Linked DNA regions of Homo sapiens. The protein of the gene in region 3 purifies or fractionates together with the protein of the main gene of each other region. This does not show direct contact. Each region holds a gene or a part of one and is shown on either strand. Other genes may lie near its edges.

Region 1 (4,040 bases), on a different chromosome or scaffold from region 3:
TAGGCAGACAACATGATTGTTTACGTAGAAAATCCCAAGAATGGTACAATAAAACTACTGCAGCCAGTAAATGACTTTATCAGGTTGCAGAATACAGAGTCATTGTACAAATACCATTGAATTTATAGGCTCTAGCAACAAACAATTAGGTAATTATAAAAACAGTATTTAAAATAGCATCAAAAACCATGAAATATTTAGAATAAGCCTAACAATTTATGCAAGACCTGCACACTGAAAATTATAAAACATTGCTGAAAGAAATTAATAAAGCCCTAAATAAGTGGAGATGTTTATAAATCTGAGGACTCAGTATTAAGATTTCAGTTTTCCTCAAATTGGTGTGTAATTTCATTCGAATCCAAATGAAAATCAGAGCAAACTTTTATAGCAATTGATGTATATTCTAACATTTATATGGAAATGCAAAGGACTAGAAGAGCCAAAACAATTTTGAAGTAGAAGAACAAAGAGGAATCACTACCTGATTTCTGGACTTACCGTAAAACTCAATAATGATCTCAATTTGGTACTGGCATAAGGATAGATGTATTGATGAATGGAACAGATTATGGAGTTTAGAAAGGAACATGCACTTAATATGGTTAATTGATTAAAAAAAAAAAAACAAAAAGATGCCCAAGTAATTCAATTGGAAAAAGGCAGTCCATTTAACAGATGGTGCAGGAAATATCAGGAATCCATTTACCAAGAAGTTAATCTCAGTCCTTACCTCCTCACTCTATACCAAATTAACTTGAAATGTAGCATAGACCTAAATGTAAAAGTTGAAGTATAAAACCTCTAAAAGAAAATGTCTGAAAAAATTATTCTGACCTTGGGCAGACTTCTTCAGTACATAAAAAACACAAATCATTTTTTTAATGATAAATCAGGCTTTATCAAAATTTAAAACTTCTGCTATTTAGAAGACAAGAAAATGAGAAGACAAGTCACAGATTGGCAAAACAGATCTGATACAGGGTTTTTGTGCAAAATATATAAAGACCTTTTGCAACTCAATAATAAGATAACCCAATTTTTTTAAAAAATGGACAAAAGATTTGAACAGACACTTCCCCAAAGAAGATATAAGAATGGCAAACAAGCACATGAAAAGATGCTCAGCATCAGCAGGGATATACAAATTAAACACAGTAAGATACTACTGCACATCCACTAGTATAGCTAAGACTGATAATATTAAGTGGTGCCAAAGATGTAGATCAACTAGAAATCTCATACATTGCTGGTTGGAATGCAAAATGGTATGGCTATTTTGAAAAATAGTTTGACAATTGCCTGGAAAGTTAAGGGCATACTTTCCGTACAATGAAGCAATCCTTCTGCTAATTATTTACCCAAGAGATATGAAAACTTGTCCACACCAGAGGCCTGAATGTGAATGTTTATAGCAGTTTTATTTATAATAGACATAAACTGGAAACAACCCCAAAGCTCATGAATTGCTAAATGAATAAACAAATGCTGGTACATTCATACAGTGGAATATTACTCATCAGTAAAAAGGAACAACTTCTAACACATGTAGCAGCAACAGTGGGTGAATTTCAAAAGTACTTTATGCTACATGAAAGAAGCCAGACACAAAAGGCTACACAAAAGTGATTCTCCTGCCTCAGCCTCCCAAGTAGCTGGGATTAAGGCATGCACCACCATGCCCAGCTAATTTTTGTATTTTTTTTTAAGTAGAGACAGGGTTTCACCATGTTGGCCAGGCTGGTCTTGAACTCCTGACCTCAGGTGATCCACCCGCCTCGGCCTCCCAAAGTGTTGGGATTACAGGCGTGAGCCACCACGCCTGGCCAAAAAGTGAGAATTTTTTTACGTTATTAAAATATTCTGTATCTTAATTGTGGTATTGGTGATTACATGATATAGATTTGTCCAAGGCTTGTTGAACTTTTCTCAAAAAGGGTACATTTTATATAAATTATACCTCAATAATCTTGACTTAAAAACTTACAGGCTGAGGCAGGCAGATCACTTGAGGTCAGGTGTTCGAGACCAGTCTGGCCAACATGGTGAAACCCTGTCTCTACTAAAAATACAAAAATTAGCTGGACGTGGTGGCAGATGCCTGTAATCCCAGCTGCTCGGGAGGCTGAGGCAGGAAATTGTTTTAACTGGGGAGGCAGAAGTTGCAGTGAGCTGAGATTGGCCGCCGCACTCCAGCCTGAGCAACGGAGCGAGACTCTGTCTCAAAAAAACAGAACAAAATTTACAAAAGGATTCTATAATAAATGATACATAAAGTCACTTTAGCTTTGCACTAAATCTAGTCCATTTTAGAAGCATTTCCAACTTGGAGCATAATGTTCTTTTTAATTTAGAATGATCACTAATGCTTCTGAAAATGAAAGATAACAATCCATGTACATCTTTTATTTAACAAATATTAAAGTACTTCTGATATTGTCCCAAATAAATACTTATATTCTGTGAGCAGGGGATGGAATTCAAGCAAATATATATGTAAATAAGAATAAAGTTATGATTGTGTTAAGCGCAGCAACTGAGAGGTTTTGTGTGCTATGAAGGTGTTTAAGTGAGAAAATAGCACTCTAAGTAAAGGGAACTGGATATTCAAAAAAACCCAGCGACAGGAATAAGCTTGAGTGAATTCTAAAAGTTGAGATAAGTCAAACGAGGTTTGTGGGTGGGTGGTCAAAGCAAATAATGGGACCAGGCCAGATCAGGCAGGGTCTTATAGATGGGATTTTTAAGATCTTTAACTGTTATTTGGACTTTGCTGCATAATAAACCACCCCAAAACTTAGTGATGTGAAGCAACAAACATTATTTCTCATTCTGTGAGTCTGTGGGGCAGTTCATTTGTTGGACTTGCTTAGCTAGAGCTAGGTGGTGTAGTTCACACCCTTGGCCGACAGTTCATGCTGCCATTATTTTTTGGTCACAGGGTTCCCAAAGCAGCAGGAAGGGGGCAAGCCCCAGTCCACAAACATTTGTCAGGTCTTTGCTTGCATCACGTTCGCTGTTGTTCTTTTATCCAAAGCAAGTCATGTGGCCTAAGCCCTGAGTCTGTGGACCAAGACTACCCACGACTGTGTGCACTGGGAGGGTAATTATTATGACCATTTTTGCAAACAGCCAGCCACTTGAATAACCTGTTTATGATTTCAGAATACATTGTACATTGTTTCATACTTTAAAGTACATTATGGCCGGGCATGGTGGCTCACGCCTGTAATCCCAGCATTATGGGAGGCCGGGGGTGGGGTGGATCACCTGAGGTCAGGAGTTCAAGACCAGCCTGGTCAACGTGGCTAAACCCCATCTCTACTAAAAATACAAAAAAATTAGCTGGGCATGGTGGCGGGTGTCTGTAATCCCAGCTACTTGGGAGGCTGAGGCAGGAGAATCACTTGAATCTAAAAGGTGAAGGTTGCAGTGAGCCGAGATCGCGCCACTGCACTCCATCCTGGGTGACAGAGCGAGACTCCATCTCAAAAAAAAAAAAGTACATTATAAGTTTTTAACTGGAGTTGGTTGGGTACACCATGCTTTTTGATGAGATGGACTACCCCTTTGCCAGTCTTAATGGGTTTCTTTCATCAAGAGCTCAAACCTTTTACTTTTTTCTATAAAGGTTCAGCGAACTATTGCCAAACAGATTCAGATGGTCCGGCAAGTTGGTAAAGGCCGATATGGAGAAGTATGGATGGGCAAATGGCGTGGCGAAAAAGTGGCGGTGAAAGTATTCTTTACCACTGAAGAAGCCAGCTGGTTTCGAGAAACAGAAATCTACCAAACTGTGCTAATGCGCCATGAAAACATACTTGGTGGGTACACACTGATTCAGTCAATTTCATTTTTGACAAGGCTAGTGAGGTACAGGTGGAAGCCTCCATATGTGCTTTGAAAATGTGTGAGTTCAACTATATACATTTGGCTAAAGGAAACCTAGTAGAATACACGGTTTGAATAAAACATAGTCCGGAATGCCAACCAAGATCTTTCTTTACTAACCAGCTGAAGAAACAGCAGTGAGTTTCAAA
Region 2 (4,040 bases), on a different chromosome or scaffold from region 3:
GCCTGGAAGAATGTCTAAGGGAGCACTGAATAGGATTCTCCTGACCAGAGGACAGCCTCCCCTCTACCACCTCCGAGAAGTGGAAGCACAGGTATAGTATGGATTATTCTTCAAGCAAGGGCCCTAGAGAGAAAGGACAAGATAAAATGCAGACTTGAGTTTACCTAGAGATGCCTTCCTCAAAAGTAGTTTTAGAGTATCTTTTCTACTTTTGAGATATAATTTCATCCTTATTAGATATACAGAGATGCCAAGGAGTGCCTAAATCTTCTATCAAACAGATTGGGAACATCTCAGTTTTTCTTTGGAGATACGTGAGTATTCCCTTAAAAATCATTTTGGTATTTTGTGCACATATATTCAGTGAGCAGCTATTTAAAGCAAGTCCTCTTATCTCCCCAAAAGATGAGTTTTTTACTTAAAAAAAACAAGATTTAGGCCGGTGTGGTGGCTCATACCTGTAATCACAGCACTTTGGGAGGCCGAGTTGGGCAGATCACCCGAGGCCAGAAGTTCAAGACCAACCTGCCCAACATGGCGAAACCCCATCTCTACTAAAAATACAAAAAATTAGCTGCGTGTGGTGGTGGGCACCTGTAATCCCAGCTACTTGGGAGGCTGAGGCAGGAGAATCGCTTGAACCTGGGAGGTGGAGGTTGCAGTGAGCTGAGATCACGCCACTGCACTCCAGCCTGGGTGACAAGAGTGAAACTCCATGTCAAAAAACCAAAACAAACAAGAAAAAAATTTAATGGGCTTTTATTATAGGAAACTTTTTCTACCAGTGATAATCTAACATTGACTTAATAGGCTGCATATGTGAATTTAAAACATCTCAGACTGTTCCCACTCTGCCTCCAGTCTAACATTTGTGAGTAAAAATGAATCTATAAAGACAATTTCATTTTCTCCTAGAGTCTAAGCTACTCAATGAGTAAAACCTTGGTTGCATAATTTTTGTAAACTGAAATGGATAGTAAACCTTTTAAGAGACTATACTGTGTAATTCAGAATTGAGAATTTTGAAAAAAAAATTAAACACCATCCCAAGTTAGTATTTTCTTATGTGCTTAAAAAAATCCTTAATTTAATTTTTTTTTTTTTTTTTTTTTGAGATGGAGTCTTGCTCTTGTTGCCCAGGCTAGAGTGCAGTGGCATGATCTTGGCTCATTGCAACCTCCGCCTCCTGGGTTCAAGCAATTCTCCTGCCTCAACCTCCCAAGTAGCTGGGTTTACAGGTGCCCACCACCACGCCCGACTTCTTTTGTATTTTTAGTAGAGACAGGGTTTCACCATGTTGGCCAGGCTTATCTGGAACTCCTGACCTCAAGTGATCTGCCCCCGCTTGATCTCCCAAAGTACTGGGATTACAGGCATGAGCCACCACACCCGGCCTTCAGTTAATATTGTCTTATGTGCTTTAAAAATCCTTAATTTATTTCTAGGCCTTCTACCTTGGATGCCTATGTTTTTGGTTTTCTTGCACCTCTTTACAAAGTACGGTTTCCTAAAGTTCAGCTACAAGAACATCTGAAACAGCTCTCCAACCTCTGTCGCTTTTGTGATGACATCCTGAGCAGTTATTTTAGGCTTAGTCTTGGAGGTAAGCTGGCTCTTTTTCAGCTAATGTTTGTTTGCATATTCTCCTATGTATGTATAAGCAAAATCCACTACTTATTTTAATTTTAGAAGTTTGTGTATTGTCTTTAAATAGTGGTTTATAGCACTTCAAGGATTTGTGTTTTTCCGACTTCATTTTTATTCTCATGTTAGTTCTTATTTAAATAGATAAATAGATATTTGCCTTTTATCTATTCCGCTGGATTTTTACGTTTCTTCTTCTTGTTCTTTAAATATTACCCCTTTGAAGTGGGTCATTTTCTTCTAAAAGGTTAAAACCACAGGTATTAAGTCTTTGCTGAAAAACAGTATTTATCCTAATGCAAATGGACAATTACTTTAAATGATTTTTACCTGCTGCTTCTAGCATTTTCCTGCATGAACAGAAATCAGCAGCAGATTGATTTTGGTGAGGTACACTGCCATGATTCCACTACTTGAAAACTGATTGCATCAGAATGGAAGTATAGTAAATAGAGGGCACCTGTTACTTAGGATGTGCTTCATTGAGAGAGTGGAGCCTTGTGCTTAAGTGATTCAGATACTAAATTTCTATTGGGATGGTTGGCTGAAATTGTCCTTTTAAGAAACAGGTTATAAAGATAGCTGGCTTAGGTGGACAGTTTATTATTTTTTGGTGGGTTATGTATTCTGTATACAGGAAGGGGTTAGTAGTTTGGGAGTCATGAAATTAAGTAATGTTCAACCGTGTTAACTTGGGAGCAGTGGTTAGCAAACCTGATTATTTGACAGATAAAAAATCTTGGGTCCTATTCCAGACTTACTAAATTAGAATCTTTTAGGCATCAATCCTAGGAATTTGTATTTTTAAGTTCTTCTGAATACTTTGGATGTCTGGTGGGCAACTTTTTGGGAGTTACTGCCTTAGAAAACTATCCAGATAGTTGTGACCAAAGACCTATTTGAAATGGGTGTGAGAAAGGAATAGCTTAAACTTGAGAAGGAAATGAGGACTACTGTGCTTTTTTTTTCAAAAAAAAAAAAAAACTAATTATTGTGGCCAATTGCAGAACACTTGGTTAGCAGTGTCTACTTAGTGGATAAATTTTTGTCCGTTTTGCTCAGGGTTTAGTTTTAGAGCATTCGAATCCCTCTCTTCGCCTTTAAACCCAGAATGGTTTTCCTCTTTGCCTTTTTTGGGGAGGGTGGGGCACTGGACAGGGTGGGTAGACTCAAAATTCTTTCAATCTAAATAGCTTTAAAGGCTTTAAAAATTTCCTGTCTTTCTCTGATTTCTGTCCTGGCTTCTTAGGCATCTCTCCAGCTGGACAAGAAACGGTAGATGCAAATCTGCAGAAACTCACACAACTTGTAAATAAGGAATCCAACTTGATTGAAAAGGTCAAGTCTACTTCAATCATTTTATCATAGTTCAGTATTTTCCTTTCGGTAGCTAATATTGTCATTTGGGTCACACATTAACTGTACCCTTTTAGTTTTTTTTATAGAGTTTGTTTTTCAGAAAACTGTTTAAATATACTTTCACTAAAGTTGTATGTAACATAGTGTTTTGAAGCCAACAGTGGCCTGATTGGGGAAAGATCAGATAAGAGTATTGGGTTTACTTTTGCCACACAGTTAGTACCCTTTAAGCTAGGAAATCCAAAAGATTTGCTTTAAAAAAACAAAGCGGCCGGGCGCGGTGGGTCACTCCTGTAATCCCAGCTCTTTGGGAGGCCGAGGCGGGCAGATCATGAGGTCATGAGATCGAGACCATCCTGGCTTATACGGCGAAACCCCGTCTCTACTAAAAATACAAAAAATTAGCCGGGCATGGTGGCGGGCGCCTGTAGTCCCAGCTACTCAGGAGGCTGAGGCAGGAGAATGGCATGAACCCGGGAGGCGGAGCTTGCAGTGAGCTGAGATCGTGCCACTGCACTCCAGCCTGGGCAACGGAGCGAGACTCCATCAGAAAAAACACAAAAAAAAACAAAGCAAAAACACTTCTTGCTTGTGTGTCTGCCTCTCTGTCTCTTAATGTTTCTTAAGATTGTAAGCACTGGGCTTATCCTTTCTTATTAACAGCACCGTGTTCTTTTCTTCTTTCCACATGAAAGTTTTATTTTTTTCTCCTTCTTGTTCTTCTCTGCTCTAGATATAGTTTATAGTTTTTTCACCAGTGTAGATATTTTGCCACTTGGGGTGTTCTTTTCATGAGAGAAACATTGAGGAACTGGGTAGGGGAGAGAACCAACAAAGGAAATTTCAAGTGTGATTCTACTAGGAAAAATACAAAGAGGTTACATATTTTTTCCCCTGTAACTGATAAGCTTGCTTTTTTTTTTTTTCCTGATACAAATAGTAATACTTACTATTTTACAAACTCATAGGGCAATGAGGCCTGATGACACTGGCTAACAGTTTTTGAGGTCCACCACTGTGTTATTTGAGCTTGATGT
Region 3 (4,040 bases):
CAGGGCGGAGGTTGCAGTGAGCTGAGATTGCGCCACTGCACTCCAGCCTGGGTGACAAAGTCAGACTTTGTCTCAAAAAAAAAAAAAAAAAAAAAAAAAGTTTTGTCTTTCTCACACACAAAGTTTAGTGGTAATTTCACTTACAAGTCTTACCTTAAAAAAAGACTTGCCTAGCAACACTGTTCACATGGTTTAAGAATGAGTAATATTAGTCATTATCTGACTGTCATATGCACGCCAGTAGGCTCCAAACCATTAGCCTGTACTAAAGACAGAAGTAAAGCACTGGCCAGGCACAGTGGCTCACACCTGTAATCCCAGCACTTTGGGAGGCTGAGACAGGTGGAGCACCTGAGGTCACGAGTTCAAGACCAGCCTGGCCAACATGGTGAAACCCCGTCTCCACTGAAAATTAAAAAAATCAGCTGGATGTGGTGGTGGGCTTCTATAATCCCAGCTACTTGGGAGGCTGAGGCAGGAGAATCACTTGAACCCAGGAGGTCGAGGTTGCAGTGAGCCAAGATCGTGCCACTGCACTCCAGCCAGCCTGGGTGACAAGAGCGAAACTCCGTCACAAAAACAAACGAAAAGAAGTAAAGCACTATACAATCCTATTTAAATCTAACAGATGTTATAATGATCTCTAGCTACTCAGGAGACTGAAGTGTGAGAACACCCTGAGCCCAGGAATACAAGGCCAGCCTGGGCAACACAGCAAGACCCCATCCCTGAAAAACAAAAAAGGTAAAAAAAAAAAAAAAAAACCCATAAAAGATATTATAATGATCTGTAGTTGATATCTAGGAATAGCTTAGTTACTTCTGCTTGTTTTGCTTTATTTTGCTTGTTATGTACGAAATCACAGATGCTCCTCAACTTACAATGAGGTTATGTACCTATAAACCCATCAAAAAGTCAAATAACTGAAGGTTGAACCATGAAGTCAGGGACTGTTTGTACTTATAAACTGGAAATTCTATCATACCCCAAAATGATTAATCTTTAAAAATCAGACACAAGGCCAGACGCGGCAGCTCACGCCTGTAATCCCAGCACTTTGGGAGGCTGAGGTCCGTGGATCACCTGAGGTTGGGAGTTCAAGACCAGACTGACCAACACGGTGAAACCACGTATCTACTAAAAATACAAAAATTAGCTGGGCGTGGTGATGCACATGTGTAATCCCAGCTACTCGGGAGGCTGAAGCAGGAGAATCGCTCAAACCCGGGAGGTAGTGGTTGCAGTCACCCAAGTTCGCACCACTGCACTCCAACCTGAGTGACAGGGCGAGACTCTGTCTCAAAAAAAAAAAAAAAAAAAAAATTAGAAACAAATTGAGGTCCCTTCAAAACTAAAACTTTTTTTGTTTTTGAACTTTTTTTTTTTTTTTTTGAGACAGCATCGCACTCTGTCGCCCAGGCTGGAGTACAGTGGCACGATCTTGGCTCACTGCAACCTCCGCCTACCAGGCTCAAGTGATTCTCCTGCCTCAGCCTCCGAAGTAGCTGGGATTACAGGCGCCTGCCACTGCACCTGGTTAGTTTTTCTAGTTTTTAGTAGAGATGAGGTTTCACCAACTTGGCCAGGCTGGTCTTGAACTCCTGACCTCATGATCCACCCACCTCGGCCTCCCAAAGTGCTGGGATTACAAGCATGAGCCACCGCGCCCGGCCCCAAACTACAATTCTATGGTGACTATGTATCTTTTCATTTTAAATTCTGCTTTCAATTTTGATCATGTGGTCACACAAACTAAAATATACATGAAATTACTGTCTATCACAATTTAAGTTGGTCTACATTCCAAGTCAAAAAGGAAAGAGACTGGTTTTTCTTACAAATGATCCATAAAGGACACAACGAAAATATCTAAGTTTCTGTTTTTAAAATGATTCTAATTTCACTCATCTCTGAGCTTTGCTTCTACCACATAAAGAATGAGTGTTAAGAGCATCATGGGAGACTTTTTAGTTTATCACAAAGAACTGTTTACAATGGAAATCTGGCATACAAACTTCTCTTCACCGGCACATAGCAGTTCAGTATAGTCTAAGTAAGAACAATATTTTCTTAAAGTTGTCTGTTTCGTTCCTGATTATTCCAAGAATTAATTAGCAAGATTAAAAATACTTAGCTCCATCTAACAAAATACACATATAATCCCTCAATCTAAAATAAGGTAAAAAATTAAAATATTGGCGAGGTGCGGTGATCATGTCTGTAATCCCAGCACTTTGGGAGGCTGAGGCAGGCGGACCACCTGAGGTCAGGAGTTGGAGACCAGCCTGACCAACATGGAGAAACCCCGTCTCTACTAAAAATACAAAATCAGCCGGGCTTGGTGGTGCACGCCTGTAATCCCAGTTACTTGGGAGGCTGAAGCAGGAGAATTGCTTGAACCCGGGAGGTAGAGGTTGTGGTGAGCCAAGATCATGCCATTGCACTCCAGCCTGGGCAACAAGAGCAAAACTGTCTCAAAAAAATAAATAAATAATAAAAATATTTAGCTAACTCTACTTTGGGTCAGCAACTTACTACTTCAGTGAGGTTTAAGAGCAAGTCACAACCCATTACTCAAAACTGAAATCATTTCAGTGGGCCACAACAAATGTTAAGAAAAAAAAAAAGAGAGAATTTGAAAATATGGGTGCATAGCACATAGTAAGCATTAAGTGGCTTCATGACACTATTCCAGTTATCTTTCTCTCTACATACATACATGTGTGTCCTGTATTTCATCCAGTGGGTCACAGTATAAAGAATAAAAGTCACTGCCTATGTAGTCACAGACCATCAGGCCAAATGAGTCTAGATACCAAAACTGTACTGTCCTGCCAGTTACAAGTTACCAATCTTTTGTTGTTGCTAAATTAAACTTGTAGCGCCATAATTTAATCCATGCCTTGCCTTAGTCCCAAACATGAAAGTCATCAACATTTCAACCTTTATATTCTCACAAATTATTTTTCCTCTTAGCTGCATGAATTTCTTCTTCCAAGTGCACTTAGAGCAGGTGGTAAACATCCCAACTCTTCTCATTCAAGCAGATTCATGGAAGTTTAGTACTTAGAAACAATAGTATCTCCATTTGGGAGAGAAAAATGAGAATATCCAGCAAACCAGTCCTAAATGACTGATTACTGAAGATCAGATATAACTAATGACTTCAGTAGTTGAGGTCAGTATTAATTCCAGCATTTTTAGCATAGACAGGAGAAAGGGAAGGAGATGATCATATTATCAGTGGATCCTGTGAAGACTAAAGAGGAAAGGTCTGTAGTGATTTAGAATCTGAGCAGGTCTCTTTGGTTGAAAAACTATCTAGGTTAACTCAGCGTACACTAGCCTGCAGCCTTCTGAAATGGGCGCAGGCCAGCCACCTTCTAGGAGATTTCAGCCCTGTAAAGCAAAAAGGGGTAAATTGGGCATTTAATGCAAGTTTTGTAAACAACTTTAAATTCACATTTAAATATTTTGATAGGTACTTACACGGTGCTCCAGTATACATGATGGAAAAGAGGTTTATTCCAACTGTGCAGGCATAGAAAACTGGCAAAGCTCGCAAACCATTAGGAACTGGATCTGCCTGTAAAACATCATTAAGATCAATATCTTAAAAGGTATAAAGGTTAACCCATTTCCACAGAATCTTTTAACAGGGTAGGTTTGGGAATTATAGTGCCAATAACTCTCTCCAGAGTAGTTTCCAAGGACAACAGAGTTTTTCCTGCATTTGCATCTGGAATTCTTCCTACGAAGGCTAATTCCAACTTCTACCTGTTTTTTTTTCTTTTTTCTTTTAATAACAAGACTAACTGTACCAGTGACTGATAACATCCTGAATAAAGATTGCAATACCCACATTCTAAGGTACCCAAAAGCCCTAATATAAACTTCAGCACACACCTGAGGATAGGCTATACTCTACGTTTGTAAGAGATGTCAAGAAATAGACTATGTTAGGATGTTGCTTACCTGACTTCATATCTTCAAAGACTAAAAATACAACATGCAGACTATGCGTACGCCAACCATCTTAT
Region 4 (4,040 bases), on a different chromosome or scaffold from region 3:
ACCCCGCTCACTCAATTCCTGGGTCCCTCAGCCCAGAGTGCTCTGAACTCCTCAATCCAAGAGCTGGGTGGATCCTTAAAGGACTTCCCCAACCTGGATGTGCTTTAGAGACATCATGGAGGCCTCCAGTGGCTGGAGGGCTGGGGGCAGGAAGAGGGAGAAAAGATCAAACAAGATGGGTCACAGGTCAATACTTGTTAAATGTGATGGGTGTGTGGGGGGTCATGATCCTATTCTCTCTACTTTTCTAAGTACTTGAAATTTTCCATAATAAAGCATAAAAAATGCAGAGGGCTGGGCCCAACCTCCACCCACAGAACCAGAATCCCTGGAGGATGAGGCTCAGGAATAAAGGGGATTTCAAAAGTGCACCAAATAAATGTGAGGTCCTGCCAGGCTTGGGGACATGGACCTAACCCTCAGAGAGGAAGTGAGAGATCCAGGGAGGAGGCGACTGAGGCACTGGGGTGAGGCATGTGGGGCACATGTGAGTGGAACCCATGCACCTGGGGCCTGGTCCCCACGTGTGCCCCGGCCTGCTGCATAGGTTTGGAGGACTGCACGTGGCTCTGCATGCGATTCGGCACATGCTCACGTCACCTGTCTTGAGACAGTGCAGAGAGCACTCAGCTCAGAGTCACAGACCTGGGTTCTGTGGGCCTCAGGCCCCTCATCAGGACAGCCACAGCCACAGGCTCAGAGTCTCAGGGCCCCCTCACTTTGACACAGCCTGACTCTGTCCCCAGAGACCACAGCCTTGCTGTGACACAGGCTTCTCCCTGCTGAAGGGCCCATCATGGAAATGGGAAGTCCCTCCTGTCTAGCTGTGCTGGGAGCAGGCAGGAGCCAACCAGGAAACCTCCACCACAAACTGCATCACACATATACCCCCAGCCCCTCCACACACACACACACACACCCAGGCCCTCTACACACACACACCCACACCCTCACAGCCCCTCCACACACACCCACACCCTCACAGCCCCTCCACACACACACACACACACCCAGCCCCTCTACACACACCCAACCCCTACACACACACCCAGCCCTTCCACATATACACCCAGCCCCTCCACACAACTATACACACACTGCACCACAGCCCAATCCCTCCACACAACACACACATATATACAAAGCCCTCCACACAACATACTACACACACACACCCCCAACCCCTCCACACACTACACACACACCATACACACATCCAGCCCCCCTACAATGCACTACACACACCACACACGCAATACGCATACACACACACACCACAGCCCAGCCCCTCCACACAATACTTATACACTGCACCACATGCACACACCACATAGCCTGGCCCTTCCACATAGTGCACTGCACACACCACACACACAGCACCACAGCCCACCACCCCCCACACACACCCCACACCACAACCCCCACCCCGCCCCAGCCCTGGCCCTCACCCAGCACGCGGGCGATGAGGCAGAAGAGCAGGGTGCTGATGACGAAGGTCCAGTTCCAGTGGTGGGAGCCGGCCACCGTGGAGACGCCGAGGAAGATGAAGATGAGGGTCTCGCTGACGCTGCTCCACATCTTCAGGAAGTATTTGATGGTGGTGTGGGACTTGTGGGAGATGTTGGCCTCCACATAGGGGCGCATCACCACTCCTGAGGCTATGAGCCTGGAGCAGGAAAGAGCGGGGTCAGGGCTCCGTGTCGAGCTGCACCTGCTCGAGCCCCTCCACTGCCAGGGGCAATGGGGCCACGACCAAGGTGCCCATGTCCCAAGCTCCTCTATGGGCCAGGGGCCCGCTGTGTGCTTTACACCCTCTTGCCACTCATCCTCACATCAACCCTATAGACACGGTGTATTCCTCCATTTTTTTTTTTTTTTTTTTTTTTGAGACGAGTCTCACTCTGTCACCCAGGCTGGAGAGCAGTGGCGCGATCTTGGCTCACTGCAACCTCCGCCTCCCGGGTTCAAGCAATTCTCTGCCTCAGCCTCCCGAGTGGCTGGGAATACAGGTGCCCGCCACCACGCCTGGCTAATTTTTTTGTATTTTTAGTAGAGACGGGGTTTCACCATCTTGGCCAGGCTGGTCTTGAACTCCTGACCTTGTAATCCACCCGCCTTGGCCTCCCAAAGTGCTGGGATTACAGGCGACGAGCGCATGCCCGGCCCTATTCCTCCATTTTTAAAATGAGTGATCTTGGCTGGGCACGGTGGCTCACGCCTGTAATCCCAGCACTTTGGGAGGCCGACAAAGGCGGATCACTTGAGGCCAGGTATTCGAGACCAGCTTGGCCAATGTAGTGAAATGCAGTCTCTTCTAAAAATACAAAAATTAGCCAGGTGTGGTGGTGGGCACCTGTAATCCCACCTAATTGAGAGGTTGAAGTGGGAGAATCTCGAACTCAGAGGCTGCAATGAGCTGAGATCGTGCCACTGCATTCCAGCCTGGGTGACAAGAGTGGGACCCCGTCTCAAATAAAAAAATGAGAGATCTGACTCTAAGAGAAATAGTCACCTCTCCCCTGTCACGCTGCCTGCAGGCAGCAAAGCCAAGACACACAAACCACAGTGTCCAACTCCAAAGCCTGCACCTTTGCCCCAAGGCCACACTGCCTCTTGACCCAATAGGAGTCAATGACACAGACCCATGGTCTCCTGGGTTCATTCCCCTCAAGCGTGGCATCTGCCATTACACAGGGGTCTCCACAGGGAGCTTTGTTCCAAGCAGCTGCTTGGAGCTCGGAGTCCTCCCAGCCCAGTGCTCACACCCGGGCTCTGCTCCTGGGAGCCAGGGGCTCTGAACCCCAGTTCTGCCTTGCTCGGCACTGGAACACCTTCACCCCTCACTGCCTCCCCACATCCCATTCTCCCCATTTCCAGACCCGGTGGAGACCTCAGGACCGCCAGGACTCAGGCCTGGTGAGCCTCCTACTGGGGCTGCTGAGGGGACTCCCTTTGAGACAATGAAGTAGCAGGGCTGTGGCTTTCCTCAACCTGAAGCTTAGTGGCTTCCAAGGCTCTGCTCTCCTATACCCTGGGCTTGCCTTCATGCAGGTCATTCTTGCTTCATCTGCTCATAGCCTGAAATGCCCTCTCCCGATTCCTGGACCCCAGGGGGCGCTGCAGAAGTGCTCCTCTTCTAGGAAGCCACTGATGCCCTTGGCCATTTAAATGGCTACCAAGCAGGTCTGGAGCCTGGAGTTCATGTCTCATCCCTGGAGCTCAAGGCTGGGCCCTGGGAGCTCCGTGAACCTACGAGCCTGGGGAATCCAAGCTGGCAGCCCCCGCCCCCACCCCGCCAAGCCCACTGCCTGCTGCACGCAGACTCACGCCATGATGCCTGACAGGTGGAAGAGCTCGGCTGACAAGTAGGCCATGTAGCTGTAGAGGAAGACGAAGAGCGGCTCGATGACCCGGATGTGGGAGGTAAATCGGGAGGTGAAGGCTGCGATGACCCCGTAGACCACGCCCACAAGCACCCCGCCCAGGGCCACCACGAAGAAGCTCAGGAAGCCGAGGAAGATGTCCACGATGCCCACGTGTTCGTAGTTGGCAAACTCCTCAAAGAGGTGATACAGGACCTGGGGAGGGTGTGCAGGCTGGTGGGTGGGAGGAGAGGGCCCTGGCCCCACGGTTCCCTGGGGTCCACCCAGGGCAATCCTGTCCCCTCCGTTAACCATGGCCACAAGAAGAGGCCACACGGTAGCAGAGAAACCCTAGTGCCAAGCAGGTGCTCAAAACCTCAGCCTGGGGCTGAGGGGCTTGCTCTGGGCCAGCCACGTGCCCCACTGGTGAAGGGTGGGCCCTGGGAAGCTCTGTGAAGACCCTGAAGCCAAACTGCCTGGACTGGAATCCTGGCTCTGCCACTCCTGAGTTGTGTACAGGAAGCAAATTCATCTCCCTGTGTTTCAGTTTTCCTGTCTATAAAATGAGGATAATAATACCAAATCTTAGGACTGCTGTGAGGACTAAATCAGCGAATCAAGTGCTCGGAGCCTTACCTGATGCAGTGTTAGCCACATCTGGTGCTATCAAGTCTGCCT
Region 5 (4,040 bases), on a different chromosome or scaffold from region 3:
TCACGCCTGTAATCCCAGCACTTTGGGAGGTGGAGACAGGTAGATTGCTTGAGCCCAGGAATTGGAGACCACCGTGGGCAACATGGCGAAACTCCGTCTCTACAAAAAACACAAAATATTAGCTGGGCGCTGTGGTGTGCGCCTATAGTCGCAGCCACTGGGGAGGCTGAGGTGCTTGAGCCCAGAAGGCAGAGGTTGCAGTGAGCGATGATTGCAACACTGCACTCCAGCGACAGAGCTAAGACTCTGTCTCAAAAAAAAAAAAAAAAAAAAAAAAAAAAGAGGCAGCACACAGACTCCAAGGTTCTAAGCCCAGCTCATTCCCTAACTCGTTCCATGGGCTTGCACAAGAAGTCACTCAACCTCCTCGGGCCTCAGTTTCCATATAAATAAAACGGGAAAAGTAAGATAACTGTGAAGATGAAATGACAGCACAGTGCCAGGCACACAGTTCAAGCTTAATGACTGTGTTCCCCAGAGCAGCACCCCCAAGAGCTCCCCTGCACTCACTGGGGTCACAGTCATTGATGTCCTGATCGCAGGAAGGGCCAGTGTACCCTCCATGGCAGGTGCAGCTGAAACTCCCTGCCAGGTTGGTGCAGATACCATGAGGGCCACAGGGTGCGGGGCCAGCACACTCGTCCACATCCTGCTGGCATCGTGGGCCTGGGGGTAGGGAGCAAGGTTACACCTAGGGTTACAGGGTACAGAGCAGGGTCTCAGGGACCTGGGGCTCAGGAAGAACCTGCAGGCCGAGATGGGTGAAGGCAAAATAAGCCGTGCTGTCATTCGTGTCTGGGCATTTTGCATATGCAGTTTCAGAATGGCCGTCTCCCTGTCTCAGTAGGTGGCAAATACCTACTATGAGGTCTGCTCCTCCAGGAAGCTGTACCCTAAACCCCGCCCTAAGTCCCAGCATCTCTAGCCCCATAACTCTTCCTCTTCCAAGGGCTGACCCACACAGGCTGCATATCAGTGTCCAGCTCTGTCCTTCCAAGAAGGAAGCCCCTCTCAAAGGCAGGGCTGGGGATGGGTCCCTCTCTGGATCCCCAGCATCATCCCTGATAGGGTAGGGGGCAGAGGAGATGGAGAGGAGGAGGGAAGAGAAGCAGGTGGCATACCTTGCCAGCCCTGGGGGCAGGAGCAGACAGGCAGCTGGCCAGGGGCAGACTCGCAGCGGCCCCCATGCTCACAGGGGTTCGGGGTGCAGGGGGAGAGGAGTTCACACTGACGTCCTGTTGGGGGTGGAAGAGAGGGAAGCAGAGATAGCCTTGAGGGACTCCCTGATCCCATCTCCCCCCACCTCCCCCAACCCCAGGGTCCCCACCTTGATACCCACCTCCCAAGCTCCTGGAGGGAAATGATTGAAAGCAAAAAAGAAGCTAACATAGCGGGAGGAGAGAGTAGAGGAGAAGAGAGATGAGAAGGCCCATGGTGTTGGTGGGGCTGCAGAGGGAAGGTGAGGTACACACCCTGGACACCAGGCGGGCAGGTGCAGTGGAAACCCATTCCATCGCTGCTGCATGTCCCACCGGCCCTGCACGGCTGGGACTCACAGGCGTCTCGGGCCAGGCTCTGGCTGCAGCGGGGGCCACTCCAGCCAGGCTCACACACACAGCGGAACCTGGCAGGGGAAGGTAGTCAGGCCAGGGAGGTGGGCCAGGGAGAGGGGGCAGTGTCTGAGGCTGAGAAGGGCCCTCACCCGCCAGGTGCATCATAGCAGATGCCGTGACTGCAGGGCTCATGGGCACAGGGATGGCTCGGGGGGAGGCAGAGTGGGGGCAAGGAGCCAGGCGGGCAGAGGCAGCGGAAGCCATTTTCCCCATCCACACAGGAACCTCCCTCGCCGCATGGGCTGGAAGCACACTCATTGATCTCCACGTTACAAAGGGGCCCTGGGGAGTACACAAGCAATCTCATCTCAGAACAAAGTCAGCAGGGACAACCAGGGAGGGACGACGTGACCCCACTTAGCACACCCACACCCCCGAGCAATGACCTCTTTTTCATAACGCATCAGCTCTTGTGCAGATTAGGACACCCGCCTCCTCAACCAAGAGCTGACTTGCCCCAGATCATTCTGGTCCCCAAACTTCCATGAAGTCCCTTTCTTTTTCTTTTCTTCTTCTTCTTATTTTTTGAGATGGGGTCTCACTCTGTCGCCCGGGCTGGACTGCAGTGGCATGATCATAGCTCACCACAGCCTCCACTTCCTGGGCTCAAGCGATTCTCCCACCTCAGCCTCCCGAGTGGCTGGGACTACAGTTGCGCACCACCACGTCTGGCTAATTGTGTGTGCATGTGTGTGCGTGTTTATCTACGTATTGACTAATCTGGCTTTGGGAGTGTGTTTATTTTTTGTAGAGACAGGGTTTCATTATGTTGCCCAGGCTAGTCTCGAACTCCTGGGCTCAAGTGATCCTCATGTCTCAGCCTCCCAAAGTGCTGGGGGATTACAGACATGAGCCAACACACCTAGCAAAGTCACATTCATTTCCACTAAGGATTAGTTTAGACCCATTCAGAAATAACCTAGTCACTGAGTTTGGACACTTTCATCTATGTTCCAGAATAATCTTTTTGTTTGTTTTTGTATGTGTGTGTGTGTGTGTGTGTGTGTGTGTGTGTGTGTGTGTTTGAAATGAAGTCTCACTCTGTCGCCCAGACTGGAGTACAGTGGCACAATCTTGGCTCACTGCCGCCTCCGCCTCCTGAGGTCAAGCAATTCTCCTGCCTCAGCCTCCCGAGTAGCTAGGACTACAGGCGCCCACCACCACACCCGACTAATTTTTGTATTTTTAGTAGAGATGGGGCTTCGCAACGTTGGCCACGCTGGTCTCGAACTCCTGACCTCAAGTGATCCACTTGCCTTGGCCTCCCAGAGCGCTGGGATTACAGGCGTGAGCCACCGCGCCCAGCCTGCAGAATAATCTCGAAACAACCTTATGCCAATGAGACAGCACAGACTCAGGGCAAAGCACGGACAACCTCGTTGGACAAGAGTCTGCAAAGATACGGGCAAAACAGGCCCACAGAGACGAGTGACTTCACCCTCGATCTAAGGACCCCCTCTCATGGCAGCCACTTGCCCACCTGTGAAGCCAGGTTGGCAGACACAGTCGTAGCGGTTGATGCCATCACGGCAGACTCCAAAGGTGCAGGGGTTGCTGGCACAGTCGTCAATGTTCACTTCGCAGTTCACACCTAGGGGCCAGGAACATGGCATGGAGTGGCCACCACTGTGCCCCACTAGATGCACCATTCCCAAACCCTCTGTGCCCCTCCAGGTGTGCTGTTTCTGCCCCAGCCCCCGGTCCCACCTGTGGTCCCAGAAGGGCAGCGGCAGAGGTACTTGTCCACCAGGTCTAGGCATTTGCCGCCATGGCGGCAGGGCTGGCTGCGGCATTCGTCCACCTGGCTCTCGCAGCGTGTGCCCGTGTAGCCAGGAGCACAGGCACATGAGAAGCTGGCGATGCCATCCACGCAGCGACCATGGTGGCATGGGTCAGGGGAGCAGTCGTCCACGTTGCGATCACACAGCGTGCCCTCAAAGCCTGTGGGGCCAAGAGGGTCAGGCTCCGCCCACTTGCCAGGGGCCTGCCCACAAGTGAGGCCTCGGACCAATCCTGGTTCAGCTCTATCTGAGGCCCTGCCCATCAAGCTGTCAGGAGGCGAGCTCAATACAGGCCCCACCCCCCACCCCCCACTTACTTCCACTCCACCCCACTACAAGCTCCAGAATTTGTCCCTAGCCAAGACTCTCCCACAGTTAAATCCCGCCCCCAGCTGTGGCCCCACCTCCAGCCCTGTTTCTGCCCCACCCTCCACTGGAGATGGGAGCACATGGCAGGTGCCAGGGGAAGGTATTGGGCCCTCCCCATTCAGTTACAGGCACCCTGTGCCCAGCCCAACACTTTGGCTCCACACGTAGCCTTATGTCAGTCTATATGCATTATTGGCTCCACCCCCCAACTCTGTCACTGGGTCCTGCCTTGCTACAACCCCGCCCCCAAGCTCTCCCCAAGTCTGTTATTGGCCCT
Region 6 (4,040 bases), on a different chromosome or scaffold from region 3:
GCCTGGGCAACATAGTGAGACCTCGCCTCTACAAAAAATTAAGAAATTAGCCAGGTGTGGTGGTGCATACCTGTAGTCCCAGCTACTCTGGAGGCTGAGGCAGGAGAATCGCTTGAACCCAGGAGGCAGAGGTTTGTTGCAGTGAGCCAAGATCGTGCTATTGCACTCCAGCCTGGGCAACAAGAGCGAAACTCTGTCTGAAAAAAAAAAAATTTACCTTTCAGAAGCTTAGGGATTTTAAACAACCATTTTCTGGTCTATCATGGAATCTGTGCTCCATAGAGATAGTATAAGGTCCCAGAAATATGAGAATACACTTTAAAGGGACAAAAAAAGTCATGTCATTTCATTGAGACTTTTTTGATTTGTCGCAGGCGCCATGATAGCAGTGGCAGTGGACATTCAGCATTTGAGCCCCTGGTGGCCAATGGAGTCCCCGCTTCTTTTGTGCCTAAGTAAGTGGGAGTCCATCCGGATGAAATACCAACTGTTTGGAAAAAGGCCTGATCAGAGCTGTTGCCCTATAGATTTTCCTCTTTGTTTTTTGCATTGCTTAATTGGTTCAGGTTCACGTCTTTGAAATTAGGAACGTTTTGAGTAACTTGCCACAGTTAACTGCCTTCTGTCTAATTCCTTTTAATGTTCTTGCATTAATATGGATGAAATATGCTGAGACTTAAGAGGTTTTATAAATATATTTAATAACCAAGCACATACACAGAAGGATTGCAAAGTTTGTGCAGTGGATAAAACAGTATGAAACCTAAATGTTAAATTTCTACATGTCAGTTTAAAAACAAATTGGAGGAAGAATTGGGTGGAAAGGAAAGTGGCTCAAAAGTATGTGTGGAAAGACTTAGGATACCTTAGGTACCTCATCTGAGTCAGCAGTGTGATGTGGCCGCCAGGAAAGCTAAAGTGCTCCTGGTCTGTGCTGTTAGAAGAAAGACTAGAATGAGGCAGGTGGATGGTATTCCTGCCTTCCGTAGTTCTGCTCACTGTCCGTGGAGCACTGTGGTCAGATCAGTGTACTGCACTGCGAGGGAGGATGTACACAAACGGAAATTCATTCCCAGTGAAGCAATGAAGATGTTAAGGAGATTTGCAACAGCCCAAAGGGGTGGTGGTGGATGTTGGGGTTTTGGAGGTATGGAAGTATTAGCCCAGAGGAGAAAAGTCTCAGGGGGAATAAAGAAATAAGTGAGGGAAGGACAATGGTCTCCAAAAAACCAAAGGACTGTCCCTTGAAAGAAGCAAAATAACTTGCTCTGTTTGACTTCAAATAGGATCCGTGGGTGAAAGAGGAAATACACTGTAATCCACTGTAAGAATAAACTGGTTCATGGTTGACGTGGGTCACTCTAGGAGAGAGTTGTCTATATTGTAACAGGTTGGATGACTGTCCTACAGAAAAGATGCGTAGGAGATTTCTGTTTCCATTGGAGGTTTAGTAAAATGATGGGTTCCTCTTAACTCTGATTTTTTTTTAATAGCTTTGTTGAGATATAATTGACATAAAATAGACCGTACTTGTTTAAAGCATGTGACATTTTGACACACATACACCTGTGGAACCATCCCACCACTAAGATAATGAACATCCTTCACCTCCAAAAGTTCCCACATGCCTGTAATCCCTCTCTTTACTTCCACCCCTGTTCCCAGGCATCCACTGATCTGTCTTCTGTCACTGTAGATAGGTATGCATTTTCCAGAATATTCTATAAATGGAAATCATACATTTAAGTTTTAAATATTTGGCTTTTCTTACTGACTTTGTCAGATAGATTTGGCCAGATTGTTAGCAGTAAAAATTAAAAGCATTATTCTCTTCCCTTCATGTTATTAAGAAAGATGTCATGACCGTGGATGAAATCGTAAAAGAATTTTGCCTTCAATAAAGCATCTAACTGTCTTCTCTTTTATTAGGCCTGGGTCTCTGAAGAGAGGCCTCAATTCTCAGAGCTCAGATGACCACTTGAATAAGAGATCCCGAAGCTCTTCCATGAGCTCCTTGACAGGCGCTTACGCAAGTGGCATCCCTAGCTCCAGCCGCAATGCCATTACCAGTTCCTACAGCTCCACTCGAGGCATCTCACAGGTACAAGTACAGCTCTTTTAATGTGGGGGACATGAATTCCCAGCGTTCATTCATTGACTAGGGCCAGACATGGTAGCTTAGCCATGTAATCCCAGCACTTTGGAAGGCCAAAGCGGGAGGATTGCTTGAGCCCAGGAGTTCAAAACCAGCCTGGGCAATATAGTGAAACCTTGTCTGTACAAAAGAATTTTTAAAGAAAATTTTTTAAATAAAGTAATTGATTAGCAAAGGTTTACTGATCACCTTCTATCTGTCAGACATTAGAATTGTCTTTAAGCTAATAGAAAATACAGATCATTGAGTGATCAATATAGGCCAGCGGAATGGAGTAGAAAGCCCAGAATGTACAGCAGTGCATGTGTGCGAGCTGATTCGAGACAGAGCTGTGTTGTAGATAAACGGACAGAGGGTGATTCGAAAGGTAGACTGAGTCCAGCTTGTATTGGGTCGTAAAAGAGATTTATCTTATAGGCGTTTAGAATTGAAAGCGGGGTTTTTAAACAAGTGGTCATGATTTTTTGGAAAAGGGATTATCGCATAGTATAGGGAACAGGGCAGGCTTTGCTGCTGGACAGACTTAGATTCAAATCTTGGCTCTGAGGCTGGGCGGGATGGCTCATGCCTGTAATCCCATCACTTTGGGAGGTCAAGGTGGGAGAACCTCTTGAGTCCAGGAGTTCAAGACTAGCCTGTGCAACAGAGCAAGACTGTGTCTCAAAGAAAAGGAAAAAAATGCTTGGCTCTGACATCTAGTAGCTATAAGGTCTTGGGCAGACAATCACATAACATCTCTTTTTCTTATCTCTGAAGTGCTGTTGCAGTGATTGAGGGTAATATTTAAAAAGCACCTATTACAGTGGCTGTCAGTAAGTGGGTACCCAGTATACAGCAGCCAGACAAAAAGATGTAAAGCATGTATGGAGAAATGTTTTTGAGAGGAGGAAGATTTTGAGACGAGTTCATCAGCCCAGAAGGCTCTGACAGTCATATAAATGAACATTAATGACCGTAATATCATTATCCCTCTTAATAATTTAAGAGGGATAATTAATATTATTTAATATCTAGTTATTATTTTTGATATGCAAACTTTTCCAGCTTTGGACTATGGGTTCCAAACTGGCTCCTGTATCCTTTATTTTGATCCCAGCAGTCTTCGACAGATAGCTTCATTGCTTTTTGCCCACCTTCCCAAAGTCCATTTTTAGCCTATACCGAAGTTGGGTGTTTCTTCAGAAAGCTTTGGTTTCTTCCAGTTAGAACTGTAGAGACTACAGTCTAAGTTTTAGGAGAGATAAGATAGACAGATCCTCTAGAAAGGGGAATATAAATAATTCATAATATTCCAAATTCAAATTTATGATAGTAGGATTTTTTATGTAATTTATTTGATTTTATATTTTTATGTATTACACCAAAAATGTCGGTTTATAATTACTTTGATCCTAGTAACACGCAATTTCTTTTTTTTTTTTTTTGCCGGAGTCTTACTCTTGTCGCCCAGGCTGGAGCACAGTGGTGCGACCTTGACTCACTGCAATCTCCGCTTCCTGAGTTCAAGCGATTCTCCTGCCTCAGCCTCCCAAGTAGTTGAGACTATAGGTGCCCGCCACCATGCCCAGCTAATTTTTGTATTTTTAGTAGAGACGAGATTTCACCATGTTGGCCAGGCTGGCATCGAACTCGTGACCTCAGGTGATCCACCCACCTTGGCCTCCCAAAGTGCTGGGATTACAGGCATGAGCCACCACGCCTGGCCCATGCAATTTCAAAATAGCGGTATCAGTGTCATTGTTAACACTGTCATTATTAAGACGGCTGAAGTCAGTTTAAGAATTGTGATTCATTTGTCTTTATATCCCTGTGTGAATGCTACGGACATGTAATCAATATATCGTGTTTTAAAGTAATGTTAATTGTCCTTTGGGTACACCAACTT
Region 7 (4,040 bases), on a different chromosome or scaffold from region 3:
ATTATTATTATTAATTTTAAGAGACAGGATCTCACTATGTTGTCCAGGCTGCATTTGAACTCCTGGGCTCAAGCAATCCTCTCACCTCAGCCTCCTGAGTAGATGATACCATTGCCTTCTTTCTAATGAGGCCTGATTTTCTTCCTACTCCTCCAGCCTTGTCTTGACTTTGGAAGCTTTATCATGTATACCAGGGTAATCCCCTTCCCTTGCTGGTTTAGGAATGGGCACAGGATGCCATTCTGACCAGTGGAAATTGAGGGCTTCTGAGAAGCTTTCCTTGCTTCTCAAAGAAAAAAACAGTTCTTTCTAAAGGTGGTAGAAAATTTTTTTTTAAATAGTTCTTTTTCTTCTCTTGAGCACTGTCGTGTTTCAATGTAATACTGATACGTGAAACTGCCATCTTTTAACCCTGAGGGGAGGGGGGACCTGTGCCAATATGCTGATATGTCAGCTGTCCTTGATGATGTCAAAGAACCACTGACTTAACTAACCTTGTCAGGGACTTGTTTTCAGGGGAAATAAAATTTCCCCGTTTAAAAAAACAATTAAAAATTTTTTTCTAAGCCATTTTGAGCTAGGTTTTTGTTACTCACAGTCAAAAGCATCCTACCTGATACAAGTTAATTCATTTAACTTTTTTTTTTTTTTTGAGAAGGAGTCTCGCTCTGTCGCCCAGGCTGGAGTGCAGTGGCACGATCTCGGCTCACTGTAAGCTCCACCTCCTGGGTTCACGCCATTCTCCTTCCTCAGCCTCCCGAGTAGCTGGGACTACAGGCCCCCGCTACCATGTCTGGCTATTTTTTTTGTATTTTTTTAGTAGAGACGGGGTTTCACCATGTTAGCCAGGATGGTCTCGATCTCCTGACTTCGTGATCTGTCCGCCTCGGCCTCCCAAAGTGCTGGGATTACAGGCGTGAGCCACCGCACCCGGCCCATTTGATTCACTTTTTAAATGCAGTTGAAAATTTAGTTTGAAAAAAAAAAAAGACTGGAATTAATTTTATTTCTCTTTTCCTTGGAGGCTTTGGTGTCCAAGAGTTTAATGTAGTTCGAAAAGTAAAATATAGTATTTTCTTTGTTAATAAAGTAACAATTAAAATTTAGGGAAGGAATGAAAACCTCTTTAGGGCTCGAGTTCTTAACCTAAAGTCCATTATTATAGATGAGTACATATTAGCTATGTGGGGGAAAAGCTTACAACTTTCATCAGATTCCCAAAGGATTCTGGAACCCTAAAAACGTTAACAAATGTTTTATAATAAATAAGGTGGCACTACGTAGAAAAACTACAGTGGTCAAGCAACACCCATTAGTTAGTTAAGTATGCCAATTTATGACGGATAAATTGGTTTTGTTTATAAGGTTGACGATAGCAATAAATTTATCTGAAATCAGAGGATACTTTAAAAGCCTAGATCTTTTACAACTGTAAATTACTTCATGCAAATTTAACTAACTGGTAACTCTGAAGTCACTAAAGACATACATCTCTGTAATTTACTTGAGAGGTAGGCTCCTAATGGAGCAATACTTGTTAAACAGTTTTGGCTCCCCAAACATTTTGGCATAAGCAATCCTGGAAGGGAGAGGGGAAGAGAAGGAGAAAAGAAAAGAAGGAAGAAGAGAGCTAGATTAAAACTGTAACAGAATTAATGAGAGGAATGGCTGCTTTTGATGAGATATCAAAGGGGTAATATCCTTCCTTTTATTATAAAAACAACTAATTTCAGAACATATACATTATCATATTATAAACATTAAAAACAAACAAAGCAGATGGTGAACAATATTAATGATAGACCAGTTTTCAATAGATTTGACAACAAAACTTGTGTGCATGAACCATTTGCAAATGATTTTGGTTCAGCTTCATCATGAAACCACAGACAAACCAAAAATCATTTAACACACTGAAATAACTTTTAAAAAAGCAAATGAAAAATCGAATATTCAAAAATATTCTGATTATTGCCTCTCTGTAGAGCCCATCTTTTCTGTTATACAACTTACCCTGACAATCAGGATCCATTTAATTAGAGAGAGACCAAATCCTGAAATGGCCCCATACCTTCCTGCAGCTGAAGTGGTCAGGCAAAAAGACAGGAAAAACCCAATCCAGTTAAAGAGGAATGCCACTGCAAAAGCAGAGGAGGGGAAAGATGTTAGACATGTCCTGTTACCCAAGAACAAGAGTGCCTTACACCTGCCTCTGTTTAAATGACTTTCCAAAGGATAAAAGACAGCCTGTCCTCCACAACCGTCACCATACCTCCTCTAAAACATCCATTCTTCTGTCTTTCCCCAAAAAGCAAACAAGAAAAACTCCTCCCTATCAGGTTTTACACACTTATGTCTACTGCTAGTCACTTTCAAAAACGCCTTAATAGGCTGAGCACAATAGCTCACATCTGTAATCCTAGCACTTTGGGAGGCCAACGTTGGAGGATCCCGAGCCCAGCAGTTTGAGACCAGCCTGAGCACCACAGTGAGACCCATCTCTACAAAAACTGAAAAAAACAAAACAAACAAACAAACAAACAAAAGCCGGGCACAGTGGTGCACACCTGCAAGTCCCAGCTACTTGGGAGGCTGAGGTGGGGGGATCACTTGAGCCCAGGAAGTCAAGGGTACACTGAGAAGTGATCACACCACTGCACTCCAAATTCAGCCTGGGCAACAGAGCAAGACCTTGTCTCAAAAGGAAAAAGCAAAAAAAACAAAAAACAGCAAAAAGCAAACCTTAACATTCACCAAACTGTATACTTACAACCTCTGCTTTTTTTTTTTTTTTTTTTTTTGAGACTGAGTCTCACTCTGTCACCCAGGCTGGAGTGCAGTAGCACGACCTTGGCTCACTGCAATCTCTGCCTCCCAGGTTCAAGTGATTCTCCTGCCTCAGCCTCCCGAGTGGCTGGGACTATAGGCGTGCACCGCCAGGCCCGGCTAACGGCTAATTTTTGTTTTTAGTAGAGATGGGGTTTCTCCATGTTGGCCAGGTTGGTCTTGAACCTCTAGCCCCAGGTGATTCGCCCACCTCAGCCTTCCAAAGTGCTGGGATTACAGGCATGAGCCACTGTGCCCAGCCTTTGACCTCTTTTTTTTTTTTTTTTTTTGAGACGAAGTCTCACTCTTGTCCCCCAGGCTAGAGTGCAATGGTGCGATCTCACCTCACGGCAACCTCTGCCTCCCGGGTTCAATCGATTCTCCTGCCTCAGCCTCCTGAGTAGCTGGGATTACAGGTGCCTGCCACCACACCCAGCTAATTTTTGTATTTTTAGTAGAGATGGGGTTTCACCATGGTGGCCAGGCTGGTCTCGAACTCCTGACCTCAGGGCATCTGCCTGCCTCGGCCTCCCAAAGTGCTGGGATTATAGGCATGAGCCACCATGCCCAGCCTGACCTCTGCTTTTTACTGTGTGTGTTATATATATATAGTCCAGTAAATAAAATAAATGCCTTCAACATTAAATAAGTGCCCCCAAATAATCTGATTCAAGTCACTCATCCTCCTGTTCTCTGAATTTTGACAACTTATATAACATCACCTCTAAAAGCATTGCATTTTCTTATCTTTCTAATACAACAAATAAAGGAAATGGTTGCTCACTTCTATGTGAGGCACACAAAAAGATAAATGGCAAGTAACATGAAGGGAGAAAATCAGGCTGACTTTGATCTGTCAGAAAAAAGAAGCTTTCAGAGCAAAATTCATCAAAGGCATTTAATTCCTATTCTACAGATTAAGTATGAGTAGAAGCAACGCAAAAGGGCCCCGTAGACCTGGAAGATGAGGCTTAGCTCATGTAAAAATGCAGCATCCTCATAACTGCTTTAATTATATTTTCCACAGATATTCATGAAAATAGAAGGCAAAGAGAAGGGATATTAAAACAAAGGTATATTAAGCTTTGAATATTCCAGTAAAAGGCACCAAATAAACATAATGTATTAATATATTAGCTCAACTAGTTATTTTAATTCAGTCAGATTCACCCATAATCCAAAGCACTCTAGTTTGTAGGGGGTGGTTCTGATAT

Evidence for each region.
Region 1: the proteins of SLC20A1 (region 3) and BMPR1A purify together in Homo sapiens (affinity purification with mass spectrometry; 2 studies listed by BioGRID and IntAct, with this or other methods). This does not show direct contact.
Region 2: the proteins of SLC20A1 (region 3) and MTX3 purify together in Homo sapiens (affinity purification with mass spectrometry; one large-scale study listed by BioGRID and IntAct). This does not show direct contact.
Region 4: the proteins of SLC20A1 (region 3) and SLC9A1 purify together in Homo sapiens (affinity purification with mass spectrometry; one large-scale study listed by BioGRID and IntAct). This does not show direct contact.
Region 5: the proteins of SLC20A1 (region 3) and NOTCH3 purify together in Homo sapiens (affinity purification with mass spectrometry; 2 studies listed by BioGRID and IntAct, with this or other methods). This does not show direct contact.
Region 6: the proteins of SLC20A1 (region 3) and POM121 purify together in Homo sapiens (affinity purification with mass spectrometry; one large-scale study listed by BioGRID and IntAct). This does not show direct contact.
Region 7: the proteins of SLC20A1 (region 3) and NDFIP1 purify together in Homo sapiens (affinity purification with mass spectrometry; 2 studies listed by BioGRID and IntAct, with this or other methods). This does not show direct contact.

Annotation. Positions count from the first base shown.
Region 1 is NC_000010.11:86,913,503-86,917,542, forward strand, and holds part of BMPR1A (bone morphogenetic protein receptor type-1A isoform 3 precursor), read left to right. Parts: intron 1-3,631; coding exon 3,632-3,824; intron 3,825-4,040. UniProt on the Homo sapiens protein: On ligand binding, forms a receptor complex consisting of two type II and two type I transmembrane serine/threonine kinases.
Region 2 is NC_000005.10:79,984,513-79,988,552, reverse strand, and holds part of MTX3 (metaxin-3), read left to right. Parts: coding exon 1-91; intron 92-237; coding exon 238-314; intron 315-1,445; coding exon 1,446-1,603; intron 1,604-2,893; coding exon 2,894-2,982; intron 2,983-4,040.
Region 3 is NC_000002.12:112,652,248-112,656,287, reverse strand, and holds part of SLC20A1 (sodium-dependent phosphate transporter 1), read right to left. Parts: intron 3,587-4,040; coding exon 3,490-3,586; intron 1-3,489. UniProt on the Homo sapiens protein: Sodium-phosphate symporter which preferentially transports the monovalent form of phosphate with a stoichiometry of two sodium ions per phosphate ion. May play a role in extracellular matrix and cartilage calcification as well as in vascular calcification.
Region 4 is NC_000001.11:27,106,200-27,110,239, forward strand, and holds part of SLC9A1 (sodium/hydrogen exchanger 1), read right to left. Parts: intron 3,579-4,040; coding exon 3,328-3,578; intron 1,667-3,327; coding exon 1,449-1,666; intron 1-1,448. UniProt on the Homo sapiens protein: Electroneutral Na(+) /H(+) antiporter that extrudes Na(+) in exchange for external protons driven by the inward sodium ion chemical gradient, protecting cells from acidification that occurs from metabolism.
Region 5 is NC_000019.10:15,183,785-15,187,824, forward strand, and holds part of NOTCH3 (neurogenic locus notch homolog protein 3 precursor), read right to left. Parts: intron 3,555-4,040; coding exon 3,321-3,554; intron 3,205-3,320; coding exon 3,094-3,204; intron 1,896-3,093; coding exon 1,703-1,895; intron 1,625-1,702; coding exon 1,473-1,624; intron 1,236-1,472; coding exon 1,122-1,235; intron 667-1,121; coding exon 511-666; intron 1-510. UniProt on the Homo sapiens protein: Functions as a receptor for membrane-bound ligands Jagged1, Jagged2 and Delta1 to regulate cell-fate determination.
Region 6 is NC_000007.14:72,928,011-72,932,050, forward strand, and holds part of POM121 (nuclear envelope pore membrane protein POM 121), read left to right. Parts: intron 1-374; coding exon 375-455; intron 456-1,929; coding exon 1,930-2,101; intron 2,102-4,040. UniProt on the Homo sapiens protein: Essential component of the nuclear pore complex (NPC). The repeat-containing domain may be involved in anchoring components of the pore complex to the pore membrane. When overexpressed in cells induces the formation of cytoplasmic annulate lamellae (AL).
Region 7 is NC_000005.10:142,135,832-142,139,871, reverse strand, and holds part of NDFIP1 (NEDD4 family-interacting protein 1), read right to left. Parts: intron 2,139-4,040; coding exon 2,014-2,138; intron 1-2,013. UniProt on the Homo sapiens protein: Activates HECT domain-containing E3 ubiquitin-protein ligases, including NEDD4 and ITCH, and consequently modulates the stability of their targets. As a result, controls many cellular processes.